Linked DNA regions of Homo sapiens. The protein of the gene in region 1 purifies or fractionates together with the protein of each later gene. This does not show direct contact. Each region holds a gene or a part of one and is shown in the gene's direction. Other genes may lie near its edges.

Region 1 (3,500 bases):
AAGCCCACATTCTGAAGAACCACCCAGGAGCAGAGCTCCCACCGAGCATTCGGAAGCTCCGACCCGCTGGTCCTGGAGAGCCAGACCCCATGCTGAGCACACACACCCAGCTGACGGGCACCATCGCCACCCCTCCCGTCTGCTGTCCCCACTGCTCCAAGCAGTACAGCAGCAAGGTAGGGGGAGTTTCTGACTAAAGCTAAGGTCAAAACCGCCATGCGAGGAATCTCTTAAGGAAAGGTGGCTTCTCATCCACATGGCCTGGATGGCTCCTTCTGAGTTGACGGGGGACTGAAAGAGATGTTGTCCTAGTCACTGTAAACAGAGAGCACAGCAGAGAATGGAAAGAGGATACTGTGGACCTCCCCAGAATTAGTGCCGTACAGCAGCCCGAGCAGCTGGCTGTTTTCCTTTTCCCTTGGCCTGCGGAGGGCCTCACGTTTGAATGTTCTGTGCTTGCAGTTGGTGAGTTCAGGCTTTTGGAAGCACCACATAGAAAGTTACGTGGTGGCTTTACAAAGGAGGTCATTTTGGCTGGGGGGATTGTGATTGATTGCTGCAGGTACTATTTGGGGGGGGTATTGAGACCTTGCTGATGGTGTGAGGTCAGGTGAGGTTTTACTTCTTCCCCACCCTCTTCCCTGCTTTCATAGCATTATGTTACCCCAGGAAGTACAGGCATAGAGTCAGTGTTGCTCTGATTTTTCTTTTTTTAAGACATAAAAGACTTTAGGAATCTTTGGAGGATTTACATATGAGAAAAACGGAAAATCACAAATTCTAATAATTATTCTTGTTTTTTGCCTTGCTTTTTCAGACCAAGATGGTCCAGCACATTCGAAAGAAGCATCCAGAGTTCGCCCAGCTCTCCAACACCATACACACACCACTGACGACAGCTGTGATCAGTGCCACCCCAGCGGTTTTGACTACAGACAGCGCCACTGGAGAGACTGTGGTGACGACGGACCTGCTCACCCAAGCAATGACAGAACTGTCCCAGACCTTAACGACAGACTACCGAACGCCACAAGGGGATTACCAGAGAATTCAGTACATCCCTGTGTCGCAGTCGGCGTCTGGCCTCCAGCAGCCTCAGCACATACAGCTGCAAGTGGTTCAAGTGGCCTCGGTACTGCGTGCCTTGGTTTCCCTTTGCCTTATGAATGCCGTGTTGCCACTAGCACCTCATTCTCAGAGCTGGGGCTGGGATCTATGTAATGTCCTTCTGCGTGGAAGTTCTGAGCCTTGGGCATTTTACAACTGCCCCTTCCCCTTTCAGGCTGATGAGGCCTCTGGCCTTAGCAATGTAAGAGATTTCTGTCTATAGTAGTCAGGAAATTTTAGGTTCCAGCATATACAAGCCTCCTGTGCTGTGGCAGGACAGTAGCCACAGCACCTGTTTCTGACCCTCTTCTGATCCTTATCTTTAACCATCCTGGTTGGCTGCTTGGTAATGAGCCAGTTTGATAAATCACGACCTGCGTATCAAATGTCTTATATCAAAGAGAGGTCATAAAGCATAATATTGATGGCTGGGCGCAGTGGCTCATGCCTGTAATCCCAGCACTTTTGGGAGGCTGAGGCGGGCAGATCACTTGAGGTCAGGAGTTCGAGACCAGCCTGGCCAACATGGCAAAATCTCGTCTCTACTAAAAATACAAAAATTAGCTGGGCATGGTGGCGGATGCCTGTAATCCCAGCTACTCAGGAAGCTGGGGCAGGAGAATTGCTTGAACCTGGGAGGCGGAGGTTGCAGTGAGCTGAGATCACACCATTGCACTCCAGCCTGGGCGACAGAACAGGACTCAAAAAAAAAAATTGAGTCAATCTCTGCATATCAGTCAGTGCCTTTGTAGTATAGAGGTATAACTGTGTTCCTTCTACCAGATAATGAATAACTCATTCTTATTGACTAAGGAACTAAATGAAAGTGATTCTCCCAGAACTATTGTTTCATTTAATTACACTGAGGAGAAGTGTCCCCAAGGCACAAATGAACAAACTTGTTGCTTTGAAATCATTTGGTCTCTGAAAATTTAAAACTAACATGGGGACAGGAAATTGGAAGTTGCCACTGTCGTTGACTATTCTTTGTCTTGTTTTTCTTATGGAGGGTTTTTAACTTCAGGCTTTGGAGGAAGCTATATGAGTCCCTGAAGTTGCCTGTAAATTATGATGTATAGGTACATTGTTCTAGAAAAAGGGCCTGTACTTTAGCTACTTTTTCAAAGATGTTTATGATATATAAAAGGTTAAGAACCACTGTCATAGTGGGTTAATGGTGACAAACTAAAAACGAATTTCTTTGATCTCTTTTAATTGATAAAGGGTAGATCATTAAATGTAACTGAAATTTTTGATTCCTGACAACTTCTTTTTCAGCTTATTGTCAGGAACTATCTTCCCTCTCTCTCCTTCTCTTCCAGAATCTAATAGTGGCTTATGTGTGAGAAGCATATTTCTCTAAACGCTCTTTTTTTATCCTGTTGTATGGCGTGTTCTAGGTGTGGGCTATCTGCGAGTGCAGCATTGGAGCTGAAATCCCTTCCATTCTTCTATTTCTGTTGGCATATATTGGGATATTGTTTTTGGTTTTTTTTTTTTTTTTTTTTTGGAGACAGGGTCTCACTATTGTCACCCAGGCTGGAGTGCAGTGGCACAATCATGGCTCACTGCAACCTCCGCCTCCCAGGCTCAGATATTCCTCCCACCTCAGCCTCATCAGTAGCTCGGATTACAGGCATGCCACCATGCCTGGCTATTTTTTTTTTTTGAGATGGAGTCTCGCTCTGTTGCCCGGGCTAGAGTCCAGTGGCACGAATTCAGCTCACTGCAACCTCTGCCTCCCAGGTTCAAGTGATTCTTCTGCCTTAGCCTCCTGAGTAGCTGGGATTACAGGTGCTCGCCACCACACCCAGCTAATTTTTGTATTTTTAGTGGAGACAGGGTTTCACCACATTGGTCAGGCTTGTCTTGAACTCCTGACCTCAAGTGATCCCCCCGCCTCAGCCTCCCAAAGTGCTGGGATTACAGGGGTGAGCCACTGCACCCTGCTGCCTGACTAATTTTTTTTTTTTTTTCGAGATGGAGTCTCGCTCTGTCGCCCAGGCTGGAGTGCAGTGGTGCAATCCCAGCTCACTGCAAGCTCCGCCTCCCAGGTTCACGCCATTCTCCTGCCTCAGCCTCCCTAGTAGCTGGGACTACAGGTGCCTGCCGCCACACCCAGCTAATTTTTTTGTATTTTCAGTAGAGACGGGGTTTCACCATGTTAGCCAGGACGGTCTCGATCTCCTGACCTCGTGATCCACCCGCCTTGGCCTCCCAAAGTGCTGGGATTACAGGCGTGAGCCACGGCGCCCGGCCATTCACCTGACTAATTTTTGTATTTTTTGTAGAGACAGGGTTTTGCCATGTTGCCCAGGCTGGTCTCGAACTCCTGGGCTCAAGCGATACACCCGCTTTGGCCTCCCAAACTGCTGGGTTTATAGGCATGAGCC
Region 2 (3,500 bases), on another chromosome or scaffold:
AGTCAGGAAGGGTCTTGCTCTATCGCCCAGGCCAGAGTGCAGTGGCGCAATCTCTGCTCACTGTAACCTCTGCCTCCGGGCTGAAGCGATCTTCTCACCGCAGTCTCTCTTGTGTAGCTGAGACTACAGGCACATGCTACCACGCCTGGCTAATTTTAAAATTTTTTTTGTAGAAATGAGTTTCACTGTGTTGCCCAGGCTGGTCTTGAACTCCTGGGCTCAAACAATCCTCCCACCTTGGCCTCCCAAAGTGGCTGGGATTACAGACATGAGCCACCAGCTGTGGCCAGCGGAGGTATTTTTTTTTTAAGAGATGAGACCCAAACTCCATGACAAAATAAATTTATCATGCCCTGAGTTTATTTGGCAACTCAATAACAGTTGCTTTTTACATATCAACCAGATGGGTGACTAGATTTTAAGCTCGTTGAGGGCAGATATTATAATTTGTGTGTCCCCATAGCCTGGTGTTTGCTAGGCAACCAGTAGATAAATGAATGATTGAATTTACTGAAAAATAAAAGGCTGTATCTTTGGGTAAACTGCACTTCACTGGATAAGAGCTAAATTCTTTTCATGTGTGCTAATATCAGGTTCCAAGAGAGAGAAGGTCATCAACAGCAAAGCCAGAGGTGGAGCACCCTGAGCCAGATCACAGCAAAAGGTAACATTCAGTGCCTAACAGCATAAAGAGTGCAGGGGGAAATGCCACGTTTCTGTAACAGCAAAATGGGAGTTTGTTTAAATGAACAACCACTAGTGAAAGAGATAGGTAAGTTGGACTCTTACTATCTAAATTCAGATTTCATCACTGATTTGCCTCTGTTGCTCTGAAATTTCCTTTTTTCTTTGGGCGTAGTAGTTGCCTTTTCTAGGATGAAAGCACTAACATTCTCCTCCTCCAAAGGGATAGTTTTAGTAATAACTTCAGTATTTGCTTATTTGTTTTTGAGGTTTTCTTTAGAAGGATGTGTGGCAGTGGTCTATTAAAAAAATTAAGCACCAGTGACTCTTGAACAACTGCCTGAGTAAAATTGAATAAAGCAAGTTAAATTGTATTCAAATTCCTGTTGAAATTATTTGTGAAATATTTTAGATTAAAACTTTCAGAAAATTTAATTAACGTTTGGCTAGCCATGAAAAACTTTAAAAAGACACCTTTTAAATTGTCTTGTGTTTTATTATCAATCAAGGAATGAAACATATTTAAAGGAAGAATGATCATCACCCAGTATCCCATTATCGTGATGATTGCTTTATTCATTGTTTTGATGTGTATGCAAATTTTATGTAGCGTAGTTGTGTTCACAGATAGGATTTGGTAGTGTACTTTCTTCTACTTAGTTTGTTTCATAAACATTTTCTCTGTATTTTAATCTTCATAATTATCCTTTGGAAGAGGACTTGTGGCTTTTATCTTTTACTTTTCATTATGGGCATTTTCAAACATAATAAAAATAGAAAAACAGTATAAGCCCACATGTATCCATGACCAGCCTCAACAGTTATCAACACAATTCCTCTTGTTTGATTTGTTCTTCCCTCTTCTTCAACTTTGAGATTAATTCATGTTTTTATTTTATTTATTTTTGCTGGAACATTCTGAAGCAAACTGTAAATATCCTTACAATTGCTGCTATATCTAGTTTTCACTATTAAGAAGTCTTAAGGAACAACTTTCTAGACTTTTTCCGTTTTAGGATAAATTCCTGGGAGTGAATTTATGGTTCAGGGTTCAAACAGTTTTATTGATCTTGAAATGTACAGAATTCTCAATTTGCCTGTTTCTTGAAGCTTCAGCCTATATGATTTCTGGGGGCTTTGAAAATTCATTCATTTTACCCACTGGAAATCATCTTGTATTGCTCAAATTATTTATCAAACCAAAATTTAATTTTATAAAAAGCAGATGTGTCTACTGATGCAATGTAACAATAGGTTTTCTTGGGTGAAAGAGAAAGCCAGGCCCGGCACAGTGGCTCATGCCTGTAATCGCAGCGCTTTGGGAGGCTGAGGCAGGTGGATCACCTGAGGTCAGGAGTTCGAGACCAGCCTGGCCAACATGGTAAAACCCAGTCTCTACTAAAAATACAAAAATTAGCCAAGTGTGGTGGCGTGCGCCTGTAATCCCAGCTACTCGGGAGGCTGAGGTGGGAGAATCGCTTGAACCCGGGAGGCGGAGGTTGCAGTGAGCCTAGATCACGCCATTGCACACCAGCCTGGGCCATAAGGGCAAGACTCTGTCTCAAAAAAATAAAAAATTAAAAAAAAAAAAAGGAGAAAGCCAAATGGCATAGGTGGTAGGAAAAGTGGTGACCAAGTAATAATAGCTCATACTTCTTGAAGACTGTGTGTCAGGCATTATTATACACCTTTTAGTGTATCATCTCATCTCAACCTGATGAGAATGGATGCCATTATTGTCCCCATTTTGCAGATGAGGATTCAGTTACTAAGAGATGAAGTAACTTGCTCAGGTGACACAGAACTTGAACCCAGGCAATTTGACCCTGGCGTCTATGCTGTAACCCCAGTTGATCAGATCGCATAGCTTCAGGTTTCTAGTAAAACACAGTAATTGTTTTTAGGATTATGGAAAGTAAAGCTTGTTAGAGGAGAGCTCTGAGCCCTTAGTATTTCGAATGAAATTTTACTTAATAGGTTTGGATTTTATTTGACCGATAACCAGAAAGCCTTTTTCCCTTTATCTAGTAATGGGTAGTTTTGATGTTTTCTGTTTATTCTGTCAAGTGTTATTGCACAGGACCCAACAGCCCAATGCCATTAGGAAAATAAAAATTGTCAAAGAACTACATCAGCATCGCGTTTGAAAGCAGTTTTCTTTTCTTAAAGAAACAGCATACCAATTGTGACAGAGCAGCCCCTCATCTCTGCTGGAGAAAACAGAGTGCAAGTACTGAAAAATGTGCCATTTAACATTGTCCTTCCCCATGGCAACCAGCTGGGCATTGATAAGAGAGGCCATCTGACAGCTCCAGATACGACAGTCACTGTCTCCATAGCAACGATGCCTACCCACTCCATCAAGACAGAAACCCAGCCACATGGCTTCGCTGTGGGAATCCCCCCAGCAGTGTATCATCCTGAGCCCACTGAGCGGGTGGTGGTTTTCGATCGGAATCTCAATACTGACCAGTTCAGCTCTGGTGCTCAAGCCCCAAATGCTCAAAGGCGAACTCCAGACTCGACCTTCTCAGAGACCTTCAAGGAAGGCGTTCAGGAGGTAAGGAAACAAAAACATCTTCCTAAGACGCCTGCGTGTTTGTATAAGTATTGGGTTCCACCTTTTCCTTGTTATGTAAGCATGAAACTCAGCCTGAAATGAATGGATTAGGAATAAAAGATTTTTTTTTTAAGAGAAAAGGCCCATGGGTATAATTTGTAAACTAAACCTATACAACCAGAAGTTATTATCAAGGATGCAAGGCTAATCTTACCAGCAGCTGAGTTAACAATTATGATTTCAGCTAAGGGATTTG

The links.
Region 2: the proteins of PRDM10 (region 1) and GRHL1 purify together in Homo sapiens (co-immunoprecipitation; one large-scale study listed by IntAct). This does not show direct contact.

What each region holds. Positions count from the first base shown.
Region 1 is NC_000011.10:129,912,336-129,915,835, reverse strand, and holds part of PRDM10 (PR domain zinc finger protein 10), read left to right. Parts: coding exon 1-176; intron 177-817; coding exon 818-1,132; intron 1,133-3,500.
Region 2 is NC_000002.12:9,958,193-9,961,692, forward strand, and holds part of GRHL1 (grainyhead-like protein 1 homolog), read left to right. Parts: intron 1-593; coding exon 594-664; intron 665-681; exon of another isoform or gene 682-772; intron 773-2,853; coding exon 2,854-3,244; intron 3,245-3,500. UniProt on the Homo sapiens protein: Transcription factor involved in epithelial development. Binds directly to the consensus DNA sequence 5'-AACCGGTT-3'.